4 separate regions of the Homo sapiens genome follow, and regions 2, 3 and 4 are each linked to region 1. The links come from fine-mapping of genetic effects on gene expression. A gene starts in region 1. Each other region holds a variant in brackets. All regions are shown on one strand. Distances are from middle to middle.

Region 1 (6,084 bases):
AGCCCAACCAGATGCTTGGCACTCACTGGCTATCTTTTCTTCCTCAAAGCCTTTCCCTTATATTCTTGCTAAGCAAGCCATATTTCTTTTCTTTCAAATTCTTACCAGAGACTCCCCTCTTTCAAGAAGGCTTCCTAGACTAAGGTGCATCTTGCTGCCTCAGTTTCTAGGTGTTATTTGTTCCCAAGTTTCTCTACTACCCGTGCTTTCCTTACGTGGGATTTCCCCACTAACTATCATGGAGAAGGGAGAACCAACAGGCCTAGACGGTAGACCACCTAGATCCTATTTCCTTCTCCTTCCCAATCCTTGAGTCTTGGTCCCCAAACTTCTGTCTCCAGAATGTTCTTCCTGACCAATCTACCTGGCCTTCCAATCCCTGTCGCATCTCTCTGCCTTGAGATGTATGGCAATGCTATTTTGCTAGTCTGTTCTTCATTCTCTATTACGTGCAGAGTTGAGGACTGGGTTGCTTTCTTCCTTCAAATCTCTACCTAGGCCTTAGGACCAAGTTGTTCAGGGTACGAGAGAATAAGCTGACCCCACAGGGCTGTCAGGTGCCACAAAAGTCTTCTAACAGTCCTTCTCCTCCCTGGAGTGAGCTCACCCTTGTTCACCACACAGGCCTTTTACACAGCACAATTACAACATTGAGCTCGACACAGAGACAGGCACTGCCCTGCACTTAACCTCCTGCTTATTCAAATCCTCACTCTCGTTCCTATCAAATGAGAATGAACATTTGGGCTTTCCCAGAAAGGGGCAGAGGACTGTGTAAAGAGCTGAGTTCACCCAAGCTACGGCATGGACACACCCAACCTGGTCTTCAGCATCCCTTCCAGGGCTGAGATGTCGGAACACATCCGTGGGAGCCAGAAAATGTTAAGAAGAATACCATCACCATTTTAAATATTACTGCTTACCATATCAAATCAAGTTACAGTTATCTTCTCTGTTTTACACAGAAGGAAACTGAAGCACAGGGAGGTCAAGTAACTTGACCAAGGTCACACAGCTAGAAATGTGGCAGAGGCAGAATTTGCATTCAGGCCTATGTATCTCCAAAGCCCACTCTCTTAACTATGACATCACATTGTCTTGCATTTGACTGGTGCTTGGAGCTTTGCCAAAACACTTCATATACACCTTCTCATTTGCTCCCCACCCAGGGAGTGTTTATGTGTTTTGGCTAAGATTATATATCGAAGTTAGTGACAGGGCTGAGTCAGCTGCCTGCCTTCATGATACTCACTGCCTCCCTGCACTGAGAGGCCCTCAGCCCTAGGGTTAGCTGCCCCTCCTGGTCCTGAGGTCTGTTCGAGGCAATGGTTGCATGGACTAAGTTCATGCTCATATTTCCTGTCCCCACTTCTTCCAGCTGAACTTGGGCAAATATGTTTCTGACCTCACAGGGCACCTGACACACATCAGGGCCTCCCCTTCTCTGCCCTGAGTTCTTCCATGCTGCTACAGGTAGGAGTCAGCTGTTCCACCCACTGTAGGACTGTGGGCAGCATTACTGAGGTGAGGTCATCTTGAGCAGCCCAGTCTCCTGCACACTTCCCTCTTTCTTTTGAGGGTCTTGTCCTGTTCTCTGCCCTGGTGCCCCTGGAAGCAACTTTCTCTGATTACCTCTGGGTTCCTAAAGTGCATGGCACCATTAAGGAACTGGAGCTAGGGAAATGCCTGCAATGCTACTGGCTCCTGCTAGGCAATTGGAATCAAAGCATATTTCTTTCTTTCTTTCTTTCTTTTTTTTTTTTTTTTTTTTTTTGAGACAGAGTTTTGCTCTTATTGCCCAGGCTGGAATGCAATGGTGCGATCTCAGCTCACTGCAACCTCTGCTTCCCAGGTTCAAACAATTCTCCTGCCTCAGCCTCCCAAGTAGCTGGAATTACAGGCGCCTGCCACCATGCCCGGCTAACTTTTTGTATTTTTTGTGGAGATGGGGTTTTGCCATGTTGGCCAGGCTGGTCTCGAACTCCTGATCTCAGGTGATGCACCAGCCTCAGCCTCCCAAAGTGCTGGGATTACAGGCATGAGCCACCACATGTGGCCGGAACCAAAGCATATTTCAAACCCCTCACCTGACCTGGTTTTCATCATCACATGAATTTCCCTGTCTCATCCTTCTTAACCTTTCCTTTGATGGGAAGGGAGACAGCTCATCTGTCTGGAGCGGAGAATAGGGCCTGTGTGGTGCACACACATCTCTGGTAGAAGGCGCAAAAGTCCTCGAGGCTCTTTGGTGTGTCCAGAACTATGAACCTCACCCAGTGCCTGTAAATTGTGTGTGTGGGCCTGGGGGCGAGCTCAGAGCACAGAGTTAACATCCTTTCTGAGAGTGCTGCAATGGGTTGTCGGCTGCTAGAAGGGGTCTGCTGTAAGCTTTGTGGGCAAACTGACCACCCTCCACCCCCATACACAGAAGAGCCCCATCCTACCCTCTGCAGACGTCTGGGTCTGCGATGATTGGCCCTGGATGCAAGTAAAAGCTGTTTCTCCTTTTTGTCAGCCTGGGAATCTGAACAACTGAGGAAATAGGGAAGTCGGTGACAGTCACAGTCATGAACACCCAGCAGATTCCATTTCCCCACAGCAGGAGGCAGATCCCTTCCCACCCCCAAAAGCCCCCAGGCTCTGGAGGGAATTCAACCAAGCAGGGCTCAGACCGACCTCCACCAGCGAGGCTTCTCCTTGCTGTCCCCTTCTGCTCAGGCGCAACGTGGCAGGGCAGGAGGAAACCTCTCTGCAAGAGTTGCCGTACCAGAGCACATGGGGTGGCCCGATCTGGGGAGACGGGGCACAGAAGGAATGCAGGGCATGGGTGGGTGAGGGGAAGAGGGTGTGGAGCCCTGGCTCTGGCTTGTCCCCCTCTCACCCCTCCAAGTTCCAGAGGTCTGGGCTCCTCATTCATCTCGTAAGCGCCAAGGTGGAGGGGGGTCCTACCGAGGGAGGAGCTACAGGCCACCGCGACCAGCAGAGAGCGAAGGCAGGAGGGACCAGCCTGGCCCAGCCCCTTCATTTTACTGTCGGGGGTAGTGAGGAGGAAGAGGAAGAGGCGAAGGCTGGCGGAGGAGGAGGTGAGAGCGAGGACTCGGCAGAAGCGAGATCCGCCGAAGGGAAGTCCGAGCAGTCGGGGAGCTCAGGGGGGCCCTCCCGGGGAGAGGGTCGCGGGCTCCTTCTGCCGCTTACCTGTCGCGCCGAGGCAAAGCCGCAGCCGCGCCGCGGGGTGGCTCCCGGGTTTCCCCACCGGACGGCCGGGAGGGTGGGACCGGGGCGGGACCTCCCCCAGCTGCACTAACGCGCCCGCCCCGCCCCTCCCTGGCCAGGTGCAGCGGGTCCCGCCGTGTCCTCAGCCTGCTGCGGGCCCGGGAACTCCCGGCGGACCGGCAGAGGGGCGCCCCGGCTTCTCTGCGTCTCAGCCCGCCCCGGGGGTGCGGTCTTTGCGGCCAGGCTTTCAGCGCGGAAAAAGATTGGAGGGTCCTAGTCACCCCAAAGAGGACAGGCATTAGCAGAGCCGCGGGCGGCGGGTGCATGGAACCGGAATGTGCTGCGCGCCAGCCTGGAGCGCTCGGAGCCCGGAGGCCTGCCCCGGAGGGGGAAACGCGGCGGGGCGGCCATGGGCCCCGGGGTCCTGCCCCAGGTTTGCTTCTCATTTGTGCTCCATCCAACAAGAGCTCGTATTCCGTGTGCCATGAACTGTGTCAAGGGCTCCAAGTGCCAGGTATCAGGTGAATCCCAGCCCCAGCAAACTTTAAACCTACTATGATTATTCCGAATGTACCGGGGAGGCAGCTGCTCACACAGCAGAGGGTGTTTCTCAAAGTGGGATCCCCCACCAGCAGCGCCAGTCAGAATCACCTGAGAACTTATTAGAAATTTTGGCCGGGCGCGGTGGTTCATGCCTGTAATCCCAGTACTTTGGGAGGCCGAGGCGGGCGGATCACAAGGTTAGGAATTCGAGACCAGCCTGGCCAACATGGTGAAACCCCGTCTCTACTAAAAATACAAGAAATTAGCTGGGCGTAGTGGCGGGCGTCTGTAATCCCAGCTACTCGGGAGGCTGAGGCCGGAGAATCGCTTGAACTCGGGAGGGGGAGGTTGCAGTGAGCCGAGATCACGCCACTGCACTCCAGCCTGGCGACAGAGCGAGATTCCGTATCAAAAAAAAAAAAAAAGAAAAAAAGAAAAGAAAAGAAAAGAAATGGGCCCCACCGCAGACCTAAATATTCCGAAACTCGGGTTGGGCCCGGCGACTTGTGTTTTAAAAGCCCTCCGGGTGATTTTGTGCATGCTCGACCTTGAGAACCCTGAACAATTAGTGGCAGGGCTGGAATGAGAATCCTGGTAAACCCGCCTCCTAAGCCGGTGTTCGGAATTACCCCGCCAGGGCCCGTGCTGCTCAGTGGTCCTCTCCGGCGCTGCCTCGTGTGCTGCAATCTTTTGGGGCCTTAGCAACAGAGAAGGAGCGCGCATGACTCCAAATAGCCAATAATTTGAAAACTTTCTATGGTAGAAACTTCTACCACTAGTTCAGTTTCTCTTTTGTTTTGATATTTAAATAAATTTGTCTTTCTTTCTTTCTGTTTTCTTCCTCTTTCTGCTGCCCCGCCTCCCTCCTTTTTTCTTTTTTCTTTCTTTCTTACTCTCTCTGTCTCTCCTTTCTCTCTCTCTCTTTCCTTCTTTCTCTTTCTTTCCTTCTTTTTCTCTTTCTTTCTCTCTTTCTTTTCTTTTCTTGCTCTACTGCCCAGGCTGGAGTGCAGTGGAGCTATCACGGCTCACTGCAGCCTTGACCTCCGGGTCTCAAGCTGTTCTCCTGCTTCAGCCTCCACAGATGCATGCCACCATGCCCAGCTAACTTTTTTTTGTAGAGAGGGAGTTTCGCCATGTTGCCCAGGTTGGTTTCAAACTCCTGGGCTCAAGCCATCCTGTTGCCTCGGCCTCGCAAAGTGATGGGATTAGAGGCATGAGCCACCGAGTCCAGCCATGAATTTGTATTTCTAAGACCCTAAGACCTGGGAGCAGGAGCATGAGTGAGTAGATCCTAGCAAGAAGTTCTGACACGCACTGGGAAAGGCAGGGAAGCCAGCCGGGTGTTAACAGGTGAATGAAGAAAGTAATCTTTTTTTCTAACCTGAGACTCCAAGGTAGGTTTGATCTATTCAGAAGGTGAGATGTTCTTTGATGGAGTCAGGAGAGAAGGCCAGCAGAGTGTGGAGAAGAAGAGTTGCCCAGCTACACATGATCAGAGTGACGTGAAGGATGGACATTCTCCCAGGAGTAGAAAGGGGTTCATCTGCTCACTCTTGGCATGATGCCCGACTCCCCTAACTCTAAGCAGCCTTCCACCAACTCCCTTCCTTTCACATTCCAGGCCGTGGGCTTTAAGCTCCTAGAGAGACTTTCTACAGAGCTTCCTTGAGCATCCCTTAGCCCATCTGTAGACCCTCTGGACTCTGATTCCACCTCACTGCCCCAGCTGCTTCTATTCTTGTCATGTGCCTTACTTGACAGCTGTCTTTCTCAGAATGAGGGCACTTCCTGTGGAAGATTGTGGGATGCTGCCCCTCATGTCTCTCTTCTTGGGGCTGAACACTCCCTGTACAGGTCGGACCTACCGTCTTTGCTCTGTCCTTCCTCCACCTCTGCCCTTTGACCCTCAGGGGTTGTGTGATCCTGACGTGAGTCTTGCACCTTAGTCAGGACCCAACCTAACCTGAGGTGAATGGCCCCTATTCCTTCCCAGGACAGGGTCATGGCCATTACCCCCAGCCTGGTGCTCCTGAGAGGGCCGGGCCCAGCTTCCCAAGAAGTAGCAGCAGTCTGCGTTGTGTGTTTCGCATTCCGGAAGCAAATTACTCATCTGATTTTACTTCAGCTGACGCTGATTTTAAATGTGACTTGGAATCCTCAGAATAATTAGCTGCCTAATTTGGAGGTTCATGAGTCCGCAGGATGTGTGACCCACCCCTAATGTGTCATGCACTGAGCTGTTCTCTCCTAACAGGAAGGACGGTGCAGGCTTCCTCTCCACCAAGCCAGGAAGGTTTGCAGATGAGCCACCACAGAATAGTGACTGCA
Region 2 (6,084 bases), 37 kb before region 1:
GCTATTTGGGGGCAGGTGGAACCTTCTTGACACAGCTGGGCACCTTGGTTGGGCTACATCATATGATTAGGCTGGGGAGCTGTTGGGTGATACCATAGACAGTATGAGGGATACTGGGATCCACGTTTGGATATTTAATGCAACCAAGAATAAGGCTAGGGTTAGGCTCCACGACTCCCTGTGGCTTACCGGACCTACCAAAGCCTCTCTCAACTGGGCCCCAACCCACTCTTGTACGGGGCTGAGTTACCCAGTAGGCACAGCAGGTGCAGTGCCCAGGGCCCATAGAAATGTTTTAGCTTCTTTTAAAACCAGAAGAAATAAAGTAAATCCAATCAGCCTGGATTACATTCATCTTTATACCAACATAGTCATAACATTAATTTTTTTTTGAATGGAGCAAGAGCTCCGTGAAGGCTAAAGTGCCTAGGGCCCCTGAAATTCATGATGTAACTCTGATCTTCCAGCTTCTACACCAGTCACTCCCTCACCCCAATGTCCTCTGGGTTTCTCAGACCCACTGGGGCCACATGTCCTCTGTGGCTTTGCTCCTGCCAGGCTGCTGCCTGTGTAACAACTCTGCTTATTGAGCCCTTCCCATCTGAGGACTCATCTTCCGAGGTCTTAGGTCAAACATTGCCATCTTTGTGAGGCCTTATCTGATTCCCTAAGTGGAAGGAATTGCTCCTTCTAACTCATCCAGCACCTCTTGGAGCATCTCCAGGCTTGCTATGATTTGCTTACATTTAGCGTGTGAGTTCCACGGGGACAGGACCTCGTTTGACGTCTCACGTCTCCACGTGCTTGACACAATACATAAGCTAGATTTAGGGCCAGAGAATGTTTGGGGACATGAGACAGTGGCTGTAACAGAACTTTTCAGATGTGTGTGGTTCTTCATAGCCCAAATCAACTGATTCAGCTAAGGGACAACACAGGTAAGAGAACACAACGCGAGTTTCCTTGACCAATGCCAGAAAACCTTTATTTCCACTGAGACCTCTCATCCAATTCTCTTCTTTCCGGGAACTTTTTCCCTTCCCTACTCCAGGTCGTACCCTGGCCACTCCTTTCCTTTTGGCTGGCCAATGTCTCCTCTGTAGGCTCCAGAAGGCTCTCAGGGATGTAGGCGGCCTCCCGCAGGGTTGAGTTGCAATGGGAACAAAGACAGCTGTGGTCCCATAGCACCCTCATCTGGTGACATCCTGCTACTGACAGTCAAAAGAAGCCTTCCCAGATGAAATTTTAGTCCTCTGCGCAGCCATGCTCTTCTTCCAGCAAAAGAGCCATGTGCAGTCGGGTCTGCTCCCCATGGGGGCTTTGATGTGGGCCCAGCAGTGGATCAGCCTTCCAGACACGCTCAACTCTGCACACTCTTCCTGCCGCCTCAGGCTTTCCAGGACCCTCCCGAGCCTTATCAGAGTCCTTACCCTCAGGGCTACTGATACCTTGCTGGGTGACCTTGGACAGATTCACTTACCTGGACTCAGTTTCATAATATGAAAATGATAGGGTTGGGCTACGTGATTTTCACGTTGTGCTTCCAGATTGTTAGAAGTTAGGGGCTGGAAGGCATTACCTGTCCCTCTCTCAATTTCACTCATGCTACTTTGTTTTTTTAATCTACCTTTTATATGGGGCTTAGAAAAAAGGGTTCTGGGACAAACCTGAGAATCACTGGCTCCAGGAGCTTTCTTTTAACACTAACATCCCAGGATTCCTAAGTGTGCTCTCTCCACAATGGCTACCTGGCCCTGTTTTTCCTTTCTTTTTTTTGGAGATGGAGTTTTGCTCTTGTTGCCTAGGCTGGAGTTCAGTGGCGCGATCTTGGCTCACTGCAACTTCCGCCTCCCAGATTTAAGCAATTCTCCTGCCTCAGCCTCTTGAGTAGCTGGGATTACAGGTGTGCGCCACCATGCCTGGCTAATTTTTATATTTTTAGTAGAGATGGGGTTTTACCATGTTGGCCAGGCTGGTCTCGAATTCCTGACCTCAGGTTATCCACCCGGCTCGGCCTCCCAGAGTGTTGAGATTACAGGCATGAGCCACCGTGCCCGGCCCTGGCTGTTTTCCTATGCTCTGTGGAGGCCAGCCAGCTAGAAATGATTAGAATGGAGGAAGAGGGAATGAGAAGGCTGGTGGCGAGTGGTCTAGCGTTCTTGTGGTGCAGCGGAAGGAGCCCTGGCTCAGCATTGAAGAACGAGCCTCAGTCTTGGCTCCAGCCATCTGCTAGCTATGGGACTACAGACAAGCCCCTTTACCTGTGTCTCAGTTTTCGTATCTGTAAAATAGGCACAGTGGTTTCTGTCCTGTCTTTCTCACAGGATTACTGTACAGATAAAGTAAGATAAAGGACACCTGTCAAGGAGATATCTGTAAACAGTTCTACAGACTTCAGGTAATAATAGCAAGGGAGGATCTCTTAGACCTCTGATCTGTCTGTTAGAATATACTTTTTTTTTTTTTTTTTTTCCTGAGATGGAGTTTCGCTCTTGTTGCTCAGGCTGGGGTGCAATGGTGCTGTCTTGGCTCACTGCAACCTCTGCCTCCTGGGTTCGAGTGATTCTCCTGCCTCAGCCTCCCAAGTAGCTGGGACTGCAGGTGCGTGCCATCATGCCCAGCTAATTTTTGTACTTTTAGTAGAGATGGAGTTTCACCATGTAGTCCAGGCTGGTTTCAAACTTCTGACCTCAGGTGATCCACCTGCCTTGGCCTCCCAAAGTGCTAGGATTACAGGTGTGAGCCACTGTGCCCAGCCAGAATATATCATTTCACTGGACTCTGCAGGTGCTTTGGATGATCAAGGAATAGGACATGGCTGTAGAAGTACTTTTCTTCTTCTTTTTTGTTTTTTTTTGAGACAGAGTCTTACCTGTTGCCCAGGCTGGAGTGCAGTGACACAATCAAGGCTCACTGTAGCTTCAACCTCCGGGGAACAAGCAATCCTCCCACCTCAGCCTTCTGAGTAGCTGCGACTACAGGCATAAGCCACCATACCCAGCTTTTTTTTTTTGCCGGGGGGAGGGTGGGCGTAGAGATGGGATCCTCACTATGTTGCTCAGGCCGGTCTTGAACTCCTGGGCTCAAGCCATTCTCCCACATTGTCTTCCCAAAGTGCTAGGATTTCAGGCATGAGCCACTGTGCCCAGCCTGAAGTACTTTTCTTGAACTCAGCATTGCTGCCCTGAACCCTCCCCCAGCTGCCTTCCCTACTTTGGGAGCCTCTATTTCTAGAACAGGAAAACGCTAGGCTAAATATATGTCCTAATGGTCTCTTCCATCGGTGTGAAGGAAAGAAAATGGGCCCAATGTTGTTGCAAGGATTAGGAAGGTCCTGCCTTGCCACCCAGTGGGTTTAGAAATCCATCTTTACGGCCTCCAGAGAAGCTGGTGATCAGGTTCCCAGACATCAGCAATCCTGTTTCCTGAGGAGCTTGTGGGGGCTCTCTCTGGGGATGATCTGGGTCCTAGACAAAGAGCCACAACTGATGGGGGTCACTGGGATTGCAGGGGGCCATGGCTGGCTTTTTGTCCTGGGATGTCAGGCAGGTACCAGATCCTGAGTTCCTGATGAGCTGATCCTAAAAGATGACAAAGCAAAAGGTCAGTCTGGGCCACAGACCTCTTAAC[G/A]GTGCTACCAGGGACAATGCGATGGGGTGCAATTGACAAAAGCCAAGGGAACCCCACAAGGCACAAAGAGGACACTTCCCCATTCCTTTCCTGCCCTCTCATGAGACACATTCCTGAGTTCCCACCTCTATCTGGTGCCAAATCCCCATCCCTAGCTTCAGACTGAGTGGATGAAATGGTGAAAGACAAGACCATGGGCTGAGAGAAAAATGCTTTCAGGGCCTCCCGCACCCCCAGATGGCCAGGCTCAAAGACCCAGGGCCACTGCTCCACCTCCAATTTTCTGCCTTGGATTATGTTTAGACTGCTCCCTTCCCTGCAGCCTCCAGGTTAGGTTCCTCTTTCCTAAGCTGGGGTGGAGTAGGGAGGCTCACTTGGGGTGCTGGCTTGAGCTCAGCATGGTGGCGGTTACATGGCATATCCTGGAGCAGTGTGGTGTAATGGAAAGAGCCCGTGCTTTCAAGTCAGACCCATCTGGGGCTAAATCCCAGGCCTGCCATTTACTAGTGATGGGTCTTGGGCCAGTCACAGACATGCTGGGCTTCCTCCGGCTCCAGCTCATCTGTAGAAACAGTGACTATTCCTGCTTGGAAAGAGCCTCTGAAAGATTAACTGGACCCAGGCATGTGAGTGCCTAGCTTTGAGCCTAGGACACAGAGGACAAGCAGGAACTATGAATGACTCTTCACCTTCTTCTAATTGGGTTCAGCCTAAAAATGCTTCAGCCATGGCAGAGCTAGCCACGAACCATAACCTGTCACCCCATTTTTACATCAGTCATCACCAAATACCCTTTAAGCCTGAAGAACCCTGCCTGTGGCCACACACACACTCACCTACCTTCTACATTGCTCTACTCCACCCCATGGCGTCTCAGGAAGAAAATGAAGAAAATATAGAGGGGCCGATGTGGCCTCAAGTTCTCTTTTTATTTTTTATTTTTCCCAAGATGGAGTCTTGCTCTGTCACCCAGGCTGGACTGCAATGGCACGACCTCAGCTCACTGCAACCTCCGCCTCCTGGGTTCCGGCAATTCTCCTGCCTCAGCTTCCTGAGTAGCTGGGATTATAGGCGCCGACCACTATGCCCAGCTAATTTTTGTATTATTAGTAGAGATGGGGTTTCACCATGTTGGCCAGGTGGTCTCGAACTCCTGACCTCGTGATCTGCCCTCCTCGGCCTCTCAAAGTGCTGGGATTACAGGCGTGAGCCACCACACCTGGCCTCAAGTTCTTGATTCTGAGCTTTCTGGACACTGACTCACCTGGGCCAATTCCCATTCCTCGTCCTTGGGGACCTGGCTATTCTTGCCAGTGAAGTGACAGCTCCCAAGGCCCAGAGCACCCTTGCTGACATGTAGACACAGCTGCTTTGCGATGTTGTGGCGAAGGTCCCTCTGAGTTGTGTACTCAAAGTACTGGAAATCAAGACAAGAGAAGCAGGTGGAGAGTTCACCCCCAGCCTTCCAAAGCCACCTGCCCTGAGCTGTCTACCATGCATGGTCTCCTGGGGAGGAGAGTGAATGTGAGGCCATGCCAAGACTTTACTCATTTATGTGCTGCCTTCAGGATTGTTACCATATCAGGGTTATGCTGGAATTTTATATACATATATATATATGTGTGTGTGTATATATATATGTGTGTATATATATATGTATATGTATATAAAATTCTTTTTTATGAGATGGGGTCTTGCTATGTTGCCCAAGCTGGTCTCAAACTCCTGAGCTCAAGTGATCCTCCCACCTTGGCCTCCCAAAGTGCTGGGATTACAGGTGTGAGCCACTGCGCCCAACCAGTATATTTTCTCTTTTTTTTTTTTTTTTTTTTTTTTGAGGCAGGGTCTTGCTCTGTTGCTTAAGCTAGAGTGTGGTGGCATGATCATAGCTCACTGCAACCTTGAATTCGTTTGTTCAAGCGATCCTCCATGTCAGCTTCCTGAGTAGCTGAGACTGCAGGCGTGTAGCACCACACTCAGCTAATTTTTTAAAAATTTTTTATAGAGATGGGGTGTCTTGCTATGTTGCCCAGACAGGTCTCAAACTCCTAGGCTCATGTGATCCACCTGCCTCACCCTCCCAAAGTGCTGGGATTACAGGTGTGGGCTACCGTGCCTAATCATATTTCCTTTAAATTAGATTAAAATTCAATTTAACTTAGCCTCATTTTAAGTAACATCCGTGAAATCATGTGATATGCTTGTTCTATTTTTGCTAATACATTACTATTAAAATAAAAAATGTTCTCCAGTGCACCACTGGAAATCATCTTGCAGGCCAGTGGTACAGGAAACTGCTGTAGAATGACTGTCTTCACCTACATATGCCAGCGGGCTTGTTCAGTGACCCACACCACTCCTTTCCCCACTCTGGCTCTGTTTTCAGTGCCTCTCACTTACTAGTGCTGGGCACCTAGTTTTGGGGTCACTGGAAGGTGGTAGGATCAGAGTGGT
Region 3 (6,084 bases), 31 kb before region 1:
TCCAGTCAACTGCAACAAATTTGCATGGCTGGATTTCCCCCGTCATTTCTCTCCTCTGTGCGTTAACCCACATGCCTGGAGCTAACAGCAAAGTGAGCTGCAGAGCCCCAGAGGCTGGAAAGGGCAGGACTGAACCCCTCTGTGGGGCAGGCAGGGAACCTCCCAGGATGCCAGGTCCCTGGAAGAAGCCCTCAGCACGTGGGAGTTTCCTTATAAGCAGTGGTTCTCAAATGTGAGCCCTGGACCATCAGCATCACCTGGAGACTCGTGAGAAATGCAAGTTTTCAGACCTCCCCTGAGTCCTTCTGAATCAGGAACTCTGGGGATGGGCCCTAGCGTTTTACCGTGCCTTCCTGGTGATTCTGATGCATGCTAATGTTTCAGGACCACTGCTTGTGGGTTGTTTTGCCCTTTATAAGGTTTTTTGCTATCTCTAGAAGCCCCAACGTGGCCTCTCAGTCCTCCTCCTGGATAAAGGAGGGTGCAGGGCAAAACTCAATTCTTGTTTGTCATCCATCTGTGGGGTCAGTGGTCTTGAACTTCTCCAAGGGGTGCTGTGGTGATGGGCAGGCAGGTTGGTTCTCAAGACTTACGGCACCATAGAAGGTGGGCGTCAGGTCAGGAACAAACATCTCTGGGTAGACATTGTGCAGGTACCAGGAAAAGTTGTGACAGTGCAGTTGTTCCCTCAGCTGCAGTCGTTCCGAAATGTCACCGAAGGATTTCTGTCAATCAAGCCAGCCCCCTAAGGATCAGTTCCACCAGTTTTTTTTTTTTTTTTTAAGAGGGAGTCTCACTCTGTTGCCCAGGCTGGAGTGCAGTGGTGCAATCTCGGCTCACTGCAACCTTCCCCTCCTGGGTTCAAGCGATTCACCTGCCTCAGCCTCCTGAGTAGCTGGGACTACAGTCGCGCACCACCACGCCCAATTAATTTTTGTATTTTTAGTAGAGATGAGGTTTCACCATGTTGGCCAGGCTGGTCTCAAACCCCTCACCTTAGGTGATCTGCCCGCCTCGGCCTCCCTAAGTGCTGGGATTACAGGCGTGAGCCACCACACCCAGCCAGTTCCACCAGTCTTTGACCTTCCTGTCTGGGCTGAAGTAGTGCAGATAGCATGGAGCGCCTGGGGCTACTGTCTCTCATGTTCATTCCCACTCAGGACCTGTTAAAGATACTGGCCCAGCCCTCACATCCAATCCCAAAAACCCCGCCTTAGCTTTGGAGTCCCCTGCTTATCGGTCCATCTCCTGTGACTCCCCAGACAATTATGTCCCACTCCCCAGTGCCGAGGCTCTCAGAGCCATTCCTCCAAAGCCTCCAAAGCCTCCGTAAGAGGCTTTTCCTCCAAATCTCCTTTCCCTCCCTTCCCCTCCAAAGGGATGCAGAGACTCTATGCGTAGGGACAACATTCTCTAGCTTTTGAAACCTATGTGCCTTGTGGCCTTCTCCTGGGCTCTAGCTCACAGGTCCCTGAGGGTGAAGGGAGGCGCCAGATGGTAGAGATGAGGTGGGTCCCAGCCATTAGGCCCATGAACAGGGTCTGGGGGCCGTACTTCTCTTCATCTAAACCTCTCCGAGAACCATTTCCTCTCACCTCTTGGGCCATCTTTGCTGCCTGCAGATTTCTCCTATAGAAAATCTTCTTGTAGCTGTCCATCCAGACCTCTGCCAGGCGCACTTGATTGCGAGCAATGACACTAGTGCCCTTGGGGAAGGTGTGGGGGCTCTTGGTCCGGAACACATGGCCTACGACAGAGCAGGGGATGATCTCCAGCTGGCCCCCACACTGCCACACCTGATGTAAGAGGAGACAGGATGAGGCCTTCAGTGGGCTAGGTGAGACAGTCTCCCCATAAGCAGCTCTATTCTATTCCCAGAGCACCAGACCCCAGGTCCAAGGACTTGGGCAAATGCTGCTCTCTCTCCCTGGGAAAAAGGATACCGACCAGGCTTCTTCCTAGGCCATGACTACACGATCCCAGGCTTTCTGATGTTGGTTCACTCTGACTTAAGCACAGGGAGACTGCAGGGTCCTGTGTTTACCAGGGCCCACTTTAGGGAAAAGCCTGCTGGTTAATTTTTGTTACCTGTGCCTGTATACCTACTCTGAGCTCTGATCACTTGGCTTTTTGACCTGGAAATGTGAGTTTATCAGCTCCCTCAGGTGATAAAAACCAGAGCATCAGTCTGTTAATTAATAGCAAGGATAGTTGGCTGCTAGGTGGCTAGTGGTAGTCACTTGGGCCCTTAGCACACTGGCTGCCTAGGAAGGTGAACAGAGGTCAGAGGCTCATGGAGGAGCCTAGGATTGGGCCGCTGGGAGTTGGGGTGACTGGCAGGTGACCCTTTTCTATGCTGGTGGGCTGGCTGAAGACATCCCTCCCACTGGTTTCTTCTTTTGGGTTTTAGGTGGGAAAGTATGTTGTTATTCATTTTAGTGTGGCAGCAACAGAAATACATAATCGTTATAGTAACAGCAGGCATCAATTACGTGCTTAATATGCATCAGGCACCGTGAGAGGTGACTTCATAAATGAGCTCATCTACTTACTAATTACTTTTCCATGGCATGGAGATTTGTGTAGGTTTCATGGAGAGGCAATCCTTGCTTCCTGACCTAATCCTGATTTGCCTAATTCCTGGAATCTCTCAGAGTTCTGGGGTCCACCAGAGTTGGGGCCACCATCTTCTCTGACTGTTATGAAGGGCTTATTGTACATAGGTAGGGAAACTTCAAAGGTTACCAGGGCATGTGTCCTTTGAACTGGGAAGGGGAGCCTGATTTTTCCAGAAAAAGGATGATGACTGGTTACTCATCTGTTTTTTTTTTCTAGCCCTAGTTGTGAACATACTAACCTGTTTCTATCTTCACCCTAACCCTTTCCCACAGACATCGCAAAAGAGTCCCCAGTCACCAGATGTCCAGTCCTCATTACCCCTATTATTCCTTGCCTCTGAGAAGTTGTGCCCAGTAGTTTGTTTTGAGCTGTCCAGGCTGACTGCCCAAGCCCTACTGCCATGGACAGGGGGAGCAGAAAAGAGGAAGAGACACACTGGGAAATAGCCACCCTTTCTAGTTCAGTTCCAGATGGGATGTCCCTGATGCCACCTCTGCCTGAGAGATGTTTCTCAAGCTGTCGCCTGGGATGTTGTGGTTCCCCCCAAAGCCCTCTTCACTCTCACCCGGAAGGACATTTCCACGTTCTCCCCTCCCCAGATCTCCATCTGATTATCATAGGTACCGATGTGCTCAAAGTAGGACTTGGAGATGGAGAAGAGGCCACCAGCAAACGTCGGGGATCTGGAG[A/G]GACAGAGGGAGAAGTGTGTGCATCTTCTGGGAGAGGAGGAGCGGAGCCTGGCGGGGAAAGCTGTTTGTGGACTCCCCTCCTAACCCACCTCCCCCTCCTTTCCTCTTTCTCAGGACGTGCAGCCCCTCATCCACTAACTCACTCATCATTTAGCTTTTACTATGTCCTCTTCCCCTTCTAGGACCAGGTCAAGGAAATATGTAATTATCCTCTAAAAGGCACTCATTCATTCGTTCAACCTAGGATGCACGTAACACTGGCCACCAGGGCCCGTGCTACATGATGGACACACAGAACGGAGAAAGACAGATCCTATTCCCCCAGAGCTCAATCTAGTCACAGAGGTTAAAGCTACCATTAGTTACTTTTTGGCAGCAAAGTGCCTGGAGCCTAGGAGATACTCAACTTTCAGAAGCTGTGTGAAATTGTTTTTGAAAATAGGCAGGATTCAAACCATGAATAAATGAATGAATGAATATTGTCAGCTGGGCTGACTCCATTCTGTTTCAGGGCCCCTGCCCCTCAGGGACTATTAAGCCACAGTTTTAGTAGGCGCCTAGCCCTGGTGATTTACACTGCATGAGAAACTGTAGATTTGGGGAGAAGTTGCCAGTTGCTTTTAACAGAGAAAGCTGATAAAAGGTGCTCCTGGAAACAGTGGAAGGTCAGGTGAGATCAAGCTCAATTTGGGCTACAGGGAACATTTAGAAGGTTATAAAAAGATTCTGGCTTTCAGACACAGGCAGGGAGGTGTGGACTCAAGATAAGATAAATTGACAAAAACATCTAATTCCTAGAATTTAGATACCAGGTTGCTTCGAAGAGGGACTGGGCTAAGCGTTAGGGTATCGAAGCGGACCCGGGGAAGTATAAGCAAGATGGAATGCTGGGGTGGGGGCCGGTGAGACATGGCAGGAGCACAATCATCAGCTGCTGGTTTCTGTTTGGGCCAGCCTGGCATGGCTAGGGCTTTGCTGCCCTCAGTGGGCAGCTTCATGTGGTACAACCAAGCAGAAAGATACAGAACCCCTGTAACCCCAGAACCTATCTAGGTGCCTTACACACAGCTGGGGCCCAATCACTGTTCATTCGCATGATCCATCAAGGTGCCTACCCAGGAATGTGACCCTGGTGTTACCCTGTGGTTGCTCTTGTCTACCTGAAGTTGGCTCCTGCAGCCACTTTCTGGAAGGAATTTCAGTCGTGCTCAGGCTGGCTTCCTATCACTTTGGAAGAGGCTCTGGCCTCTCCCAGGGGTCTTAAACCGGCACAAGTAGCACCCTGAGAGGCTCAGAGAGTGCTGGAACTGCAGAGGAGCACTTGGAAGCCAACCTGCTTCCTCCCCCACAGGCCCTGAGTCTTGTCTTTGAGAAGTCTCCCAGACCGAGAAGTCACTGATGGATTAGCCATGAGGACAAACCCTGCATGGGAAGCTTCACTGTAAATTCACAACCACAGGCAACCTCTAGTAAACACCCTTTATGTCCTGGCCTACCCCTAGAATCCCCCAGGTCCTCTGCCTCTCCTCTTAGGCTCTGGTTGGCTTGAGATGGGAGGCCGGGAGGGGACTGTCAGCAGTCCTCCTGGGGTGGGGGCGCTACATGAAGAGCCTCGGCAAGCCATGCATGCTACCGGGGCATGTGGGCCAAGGAGCACATTCATTCCTCAAACACTGGAGCTTTGTCTTCCAGTTGTATGGCCCTTGGACATTGAAGCCTGCGACGTCAGTGATGGGTGGGGGCCAGGTGCCCTCTTTCTGACTGTGCTGCTGTGTGCCTGGTCACTGGCATGGGGGTGGGGGTGGGGATCTGTTGCAGTGCACACCAAACAAAAGGCAGCTATGAAACAAACATTGGGTCAGTGGAAAGTTCCAATTTCTTTTCTCTCTTTTGCCTTTTCCTTTCCCTCTCTCCTTCTAATGGAGACAGAGCAGCTGGCTGTTCAGGATCTGTGGGATTTCTCCCTGTGGCATTCACCTGAGTTCCTTTCTACTGGGACTCTGAGCAGGTTTTTTTTTTTTTCTTTTTCTTTTTTAAGAGATGGGGTCTTGCTATGCTGCCCAGGCTGTTGTTAAACTCCTGAGCTCAAGCAATCCACCTAATCCACCTCAGCCTCTCATCTAGCTGGGATTACAGGTGTGGGCCACTGTGCCTGGCATGGACAGCATTTTTTAGGATTCTGGGCACGTGGAGAGGAAGAAGCACCAATCCTTTCCTCCTTTCAAACCTTCCCTCTTATCTCTGGCTACTGTATCTCCAACCTCTGCATCCCTCCGTCCTGGATGTATATTCAGTTGAGCCTTAAGTATACTGGCCAGTCTAAGATAACAATGACACAAATAATCCCAAACCACAGGCTACACTAAAAGTCACTCCTCAACTTGGTTTGTCTGAGACAACTGTTAAAATAAACTTACAGTCTCCAATAACACCAACAGGCTGCCTGGAGAGGGGAGGATGGGGTGAGTATAAGAGGGAAAGGTGAGCCCAGTGGGCATTAAACTGTGGGTTGACTTCCAATTGTCTACCCTGCAGCTCAGGGGCTGGCACACAAGAGCCTGTGGGCAAAATCTGGCTGCCTGGTTTTAGAAGCCTCTGGGGCAAAAAATTATTTTTACATTTTTTAATGTTTGTAAAAAAAATAAAAAATAAATAAGATGAAGAATATGCAGCAAACTATATGTGGCTGGCAAAGCCCAAAATATTTATCATCTGGCCCTTCACCAAAGAAGTTCAGGGCAACTGCTACAAACTTCACGCTGCAGAAAATGTGTCT
Region 4 (6,084 bases), 23 kb before region 1:
GTATCAAGTACAAACTTTTTGTTGTTGTTGTTGAGATGGAGTCTCATTCTGTCACCCAGGCTGGAGTGCAATGGCGTGATCTTGGCTCACTGCAACCTCCACCTCCTGGGCTCAAGTGATTCTCCTGCCTCAGCCTCCTGAGTAGCTAGGACTACAGGTGTGTGCAACCATGCCTGGCTCATTTTTACATTTTTAGTAGAGATAGCATTTCACCATATTGGCCAGGCTGGTCTCGTACTCCTGGCCTCAAGTGATTCGCCTGCCTTGGCCTCCCAAAGTTCTGGGATTACAGGCATGAGCCACCACGCCCGGCCCAAGTACAAAATTCTGACAGAGGCTCTCAGATGCCTCCCTCAGTTTCTCCACCCTCTCAGCCACCATCTTCCAGAGCTGCAATTCCACAGCTCCATTGCACGGTTGTTTTCCAGTGTCTAGGATTCCCTGTCTCCCAGGCTCTTCACGGTAACGTCGATGGGTGGGCATACACAAATGGTGACTCCTTGCTTGCTGGATCAGCAGCAGGACATCTGACTCTAATCCCCTTTGTAACCTCCTCTGCAGATAGAATTCTTTAAGGTGAAAACATGCCCAGCAGCTTTTTAATTATATTAAGAAAATACTTGCACCAAGCACCTACCACGGACCAGGCACAGTGGCGAGCCCAGCCGGCTTGACCATTTGTCCTAAGGAACAAACCACCCAGAAGCAAGGCTGACCAGGAAACAGGCAATTCCAGGGCAGGTGATCCATGATCTAACAGAGGTAGTGCTGGGGTGTGGGTCCCAAAGAAGGGCCAAATCTCCTGGATTTGAGGAGCGGGGAAAGCTTTTTGAAGGGAAGATGTCTCTACTGAGACCTCCAGCTCCTTTCAAAGAAGAGTTTTAGTTCATGGCCCTGTAATTTAGTCTGAAATCCTCAGAGCATTAACAATAGCTCTATTCTGGCTGGGCACGGTGGCTCACTCCTGTAATCCCAGCACTTTGGGAGGCCAAGGCAGATGGATCACTTGAGCCAAGGAATTTGAGACCAGCCTGGCCAACATGGTGAGACCCTGCCACTATTAAAAATACAAAAATTAGGCCAGACGCGCTGGCTCATGGCTGTAATCCCAGTACTTTGGGAGGCGGAGGCAGGTGGATCACCTGAGGTTGGGAGTTCGAGACCAGCCTGACCAACATGGAGAAACCCTGTCTCTACTGAAAATACAAAATTAGCTGGGCACGCATGCTTGTAATCCCAGCTACTCGGGAGGCTGAGGCAGGTGAATCGTTTGAACTTGGGAGGCAGAGGTTGCAGTGAGCCGAGATTGCACCATTGCACTCCAGCCTGGGCAACAAGAGCGAAACTCCGTCTCAAAAAAACCAAAAACAAACAAACAAAAATTAGCCAGGTGTGGTGGCGCACACCTGTAAACCCAGCTACTCGGGAGGCTGAGGCAGGAGAACTGCTTGAACCCAGGAGGTGGAGGTTGCAGTGAGCTGAGATCATGCCACTGCACTCCAACCTGAGTGACATAGCAAGACTTGTCTCAAAACAAAAAACAAACGAAGAATAGCTCTATTCTGAAGCAGTCCATCTTGAAACATACCGAATTCCAAACCTTACTATGTTTTACTAACTGCCATTTTGGTTTATCTCTGCCACGGTTCTGTTCTGTGCAGAATGGAGTTGCCTGCAGTTTCAGATGTGGGGGACAGATGTGACAATTGTGTGTCCTTTTCCTTTTGGACTGTGGGATCAGCCCAGAGCTTGGGCCTTGCTCTGAATGCAGCATTCTACAAACGGCAGGTCCTGAAATTAAGCAGCTTAGGGGGTTGCATGCAATTGATCTCCCACAAATGCACGCACACAATAACCCAGCACTGAGCTGGAGTGTGTGCCGGTGTGGGTGAGGTAGGTGTCTTCATGGTGACTTCTTTATTTAATCTTCTCTATGATAGTTAACAACTCTATGAAACAGGGAGTATTGTCCCCAGTGTTTATAGATGGGGAAAGTAAGACTCAAAGTGACTAGCCCAGGGTGGCAGAAGCACAAAGGGCAGCAGCAGGATCCTAGCCAGTCTGCATGTGAGGACTCCCCACCTTCTCCCTCCAGGGGAAGTGAGGCCATGGAATTTTTTTTTTTTTTAATTTTTTAATTCTGGAGCAGATTAAGATCAGAAGGCCAAGGACTTAATGCACCTGAGTTTCAAGGTGGTCTCTTGACCACCAGTGAGGCCACGGACTTTTTTTTTTAAATTTTTTTATTCTGGAGCAGATTAAGATGAGAAGGCCAAGGACTTAATGCACCCGAGTTTCAAGGTGGTCTCTGCTTCCTCTCGCAGTCACCCAAGGCCTTGCCATTTCCCTGTGTGTGAGATCCCGGGAGGGAAAGGGAGAGAAAGGGGTTTGTTGAAGCTGTTCTTTAGTCACTGTCCTGGAGAGTGGCGCCTAGGAGAAGGAAAGTCTCTATAATTTGGAATTTCAGCTTTTTCCTTCTTTTTTTTTCCATGTTTTTTTTTTTTTTCTTCTTTTTTTTGGAGACAGAGTCTTACTCTGTCGCCCAGGCTGGAGTGCAGTGGTGCAATCTCGACTCACCACAACCTCCACCTCCTGGGTTCAAGCAATTATCCTGCTTCAGCCTCCCAAGTAGCTGAGATTATTGGCACCTGCCACCACGCCCCGCTAATTTTTTGTATTTTTTGTGAAGATGGGGCTTCACCATGTTGGCCAGGCTGGTCTCGAATTCCTGACCTCAAGTGATCTGCCCGCCTCGGCCTCCCAAAGAGTTGGAATTACAGGCGTGAGCCACTACGCCCCGCCCACTTTTTCCTTCTTCAATCCTACTGGACAGACAGGTGAGGTGATTATGACA[T/C]GGCGCTCATTTATGAATGGATTCTTCAGGCAGTCATCTGAGGAGGGGGCTGTATCTTACTTAACTCCAGGAATGAGGCCTCTTATCTCTGGGGGCCAGGACCTCAGGAATCAAAATCAGCCTCATGCAGCAGCCTCAGCCCAGCACTCACTCCACAAATGTCTGTCAATGTGCTGCCAGGTGCCAGATGCTGTTCTGGGAAGGGAGGGGCCTGGTCTGGGTCCTGCCCTTTGAGACTCATAGTGCACCTGCAGCCCCGGGTGCTGGCCCTGACAGGAAGGAGGGAGGAAGCCCAGGCTCCTCAGCATGGCTGCTGTGTTTCCCCGAGAGCTTGCCCAGCTCTGCGCACAGGAAGTTCACGGTAGTGGAGATAACCCACGGACAAAACATCATAGGAAGTGGGTTTTGTGGTGAGAGACAGTGAAGCACTGAGCTGTGAACCTCAGGGGGGGCCCCGAGCACTACAAAGCCCTTCTCCCACGCCTTCCTTCCAGTCTGGTGAGGCCAGACCCAGGGATTCTCAGCCTGAGAGGCTTCCAGCCTCTGGCCTCAAGCCCTTCTGGGGAGACAACTCCCCTAAGCAATGCCCCTCGTGATACTCCACCTGTTCCACCCCCAGACCTACTGGACAGACCCAGAACTGAGGAGACTGGAGCTGAGCATAGCTGTACCGGTGAGCCCAGCCACACACTCATGTCCCCGCCGTGACAGCCTTCCAACTTAGGTTCAACACCCCACCACCCCAACCAGCTTCACTCCTCACAACTCAAGTCCACAAGACCCCTGGGATGCCAACACAGACACCGCACTCAGTTCCATGATCTGAAGTATCATGCAGATGGCTCCCAGGGATTCCTTCCTGACCTTGCCATCTTCACTTGGATGTGGAACAAAATGGAAAATTCAACATATGCCCAAAACAGGCTCTGAATTTCCCCTGCAAATCTGCCCCCCAGTCTCCCTCACGTCAGTACACGGTGCCAGCATCCCTCCAGCTGCTCTAACCTGGAAGTCATGCTAGAATCCCCCCTGCTGTCCCCTTCCACAATCAGCACATCTGCAGGTACTGCCAGCTCTCTCTCTCATCCCCACAGTCACTGCTTTTCTGCCTTCTATACCACTCTCCTCAATCTATTCTTGACACGGCAGCTACTGTGAGAAGTAAAATTCTCTCTAAAAATCATAAATCAGATCATGTCACTACAGCGGCTTCAAATTGTATTTAAAAACAAATCCATGGTGTTTCCTTATGGAAAGGTATGATGGTTCCTTAAAAAAAACTAAAGACAGAATTACCATATGATCCAGCAATTCCACTTTTGGGCATATACCCTGAAGAGCTGAAAGCAGAGACTTGGATATTTGCACACCAATGTTCACAGCAGCATTAGTCACGATAGCCAAAGGCAGAAACAGCCTCAGTGTCCATCAGCGAATGAACGGACAAACAAAATGTGGTGTATACATACAATAGAATAGTATTCAGCCTTAAAAAGTAAATTCTGGGCCGGGTTTGGTGGCTCACGCCTGTAATCTCAGCACTTTGGGAGGCCAAGGTGGGTGGATCACCTGAGGTCAGGAGTTCGAGACCAGCCTGACCAACACGGAGAAACCCTGTCTCTACTAAAAATTCAGAATTAGCCAGCACGTGCCTGTAATCCCAACTACTCGGGAGGCCGAGGCAGGAGAATCACTTGAACCCAGGAGGTGGAGGTTGCGGTGAGCCAAGATTGCGCCAATGGGCAACAAGAACGAACTCCATCTCAAAAAAAATAAAGTAAATTCTGACAAATGTTACAACATGGATGAATCTTGAAGGCATTATGCTAAGTGAAATAAGCCAGTCACAAAAGGACAAATACTGTATGATTCCACTTATGATAATCAAATTCATAGAGACAGAAAGTAGAAGGGTGGTTGCCAGGGGTTGTGGGGAGGACAGCGTGGAGAATTCATGTTTAATAGGTACAGAATTTCAGTTTGGGATGACAAAAAATAAGTTATTGGCTGGTTGTGGTGACTCACGCATGTAATCCTAGCACTTTGGGAGGCTGGGAGTTCCAGACCAGCCTGGTCAACATGGTGAGACCCCATCTTATTAAAAAAGGGAAAAAAAAAAGTTCCGGAGATGGTTGCACAATAATGTGAATGCATTTAAAATCAATAAACTGTGGACTGAAACCGTGAAGATGATACGTTTTATGTCGTGCCTTTTACTACATACACACATGAAAAATCCAAACACTGTCGGTGGCTTACGGAGGTCTCACAATTTGGTCCCGCTAGCCTTTTAAAAAATTATTATTATTATTATTATTATTATTATTATTATTATTATTATTTGAGATGGAGTTTTGCTCTTGTCGCCCAGGCTGGAGTGCAATGGTGTGATCTCAGCTCACTGCAACCTCCGCCTCCGGGGTTCAAGCAATTCTTCTGCCTCAGCCTCCTGAGTAGCTGGGATTACAGGTGCCCACCACCATGCCTGGCTAATTTTTGTATTTTTAGTAGAGACGGGGTTTCTCCATGTTGGCCAGGCTGGTCCCAAACTCCTGACCTCAAGGGTTCTCTTGCCTCGGCCTCTCAAAGTGCTGGAATTAACAGGCATGAGCCATGGGCCCGGCTCCTTACACCCACTCCACCAGCACTCTTTCTGCTCCCTGGCTTACTTTGTTTAAGCCACACTGTCTTCTTTCTGCCTCATTAACAAGTCAAGCCTCAGGCCTCTGTGTTGGCTGCTCCCTTTGCAGGGAGTACTAAGAGTAGTCTTTCCTGGCTACTCCGGTGAAAAGAGCTCCCTAATTACTCACTCACTAACCCATTGCCCTGCATTCTTCTTTTTTTTCCCTCTAATTTAGTTAAGCTGGTGGAGTGTGCCAGACAGGGAGGGAACCCTGGCTGCTGACCTAGCCACTCAGGAATGAGGTCTGTGCCCTGGTTCTGACTCAGAGGTGGGGAAGAAAAAGCTCCCCAGCTCAGCACGCGGTCTCCTCCCCCATGGTATCAAATGCCCTTAGACTCACTCTCATAGGGCTACTACTGGGTGCCTGGAGTGGAGGTCAGAGAGCAGGGACATTGTATTTCGGCAGAGACACAGTCCTGTTTGTGTGTGTGTGTAATGAGAGCTGGTTAATCTGATCAAACAGTCAAACGTGTGGGAAATTTTATCCCACTGTGGACGGCAGAGATTTCTGACCATGGATCTGAGGGTTTTTTCCTCCTTTCCTCAC

Evidence for each region.
Region 2: its variant is fine-mapped to the expression of GALNT6 in anterior cingulate cortex (GTEx, PIP 0.95).
Region 3: its variant is fine-mapped to the expression of GALNT6 in whole blood (TOPMed, PIP above 0.99). The same link has a PIP of 0.9 or more in hypothalamus, prefrontal cortex and spinal cord.
Region 4: its variant is fine-mapped to the expression of GALNT6 in testis (GTEx, PIP above 0.99).

Annotation. Positions count from the first base shown.
Region 1 is chr12:51,388,406-51,394,489 of GRCh38, forward strand. It overlaps GALNT6 (polypeptide N-acetylgalactosaminyltransferase 6), which reads right to left and starts at 3,001. Exons shown (of 12, transcript NM_007210.4): 1 at 2,882-3,001; 2 at 2,445-2,532. It also overlaps a transcript of SLC4A8 not described here. RefSeq lists enhancers at 1-101, 1,127-1,216, 2,178-2,763, 2,764-3,348, 5,392-5,481 and a silencer at 3,034-3,573.
Region 2 is chr12:51,350,912-51,356,995 of GRCh38, forward strand. GALNT6 (polypeptide N-acetylgalactosaminyltransferase 6) reads right to left here. Exons shown (of 12, transcript NM_007210.4): 11 at 4,895-5,047; 12 at 341-3,581. The coding sequence ends at 3,468. Among named protein-coding and RNA genes, the nearest start is that of CELA1, 7.3 kb to the left of the region's middle. The variant G/A (reference allele first, on the strand shown) is at 3,631.
Region 3 is chr12:51,357,537-51,363,620 of GRCh38, forward strand. It overlaps GALNT6 (polypeptide N-acetylgalactosaminyltransferase 6), which reads right to left. Exons shown (of 12, transcript NM_007210.4): 7 at 3,185-3,302; 8 at 1,596-1,796; 9 at 594-725. Among named protein-coding and RNA genes, the nearest start is that of CELA1, 14 kb to the left of the region's middle. RefSeq lists an enhancer at 268-317. The variant A/G (reference allele first, on the strand shown) is at 3,309.
Region 4 is chr12:51,365,904-51,371,987 of GRCh38, forward strand. All of the region lies in intron 4 of GALNT6 (polypeptide N-acetylgalactosaminyltransferase 6), which reads right to left. Among named protein-coding and RNA genes, the nearest start is that of CELA1, 22 kb to the left of the region's middle. RefSeq lists enhancers at 3,423-3,572, 5,411-5,977. The variant T/C (reference allele first, on the strand shown) is at 2,855.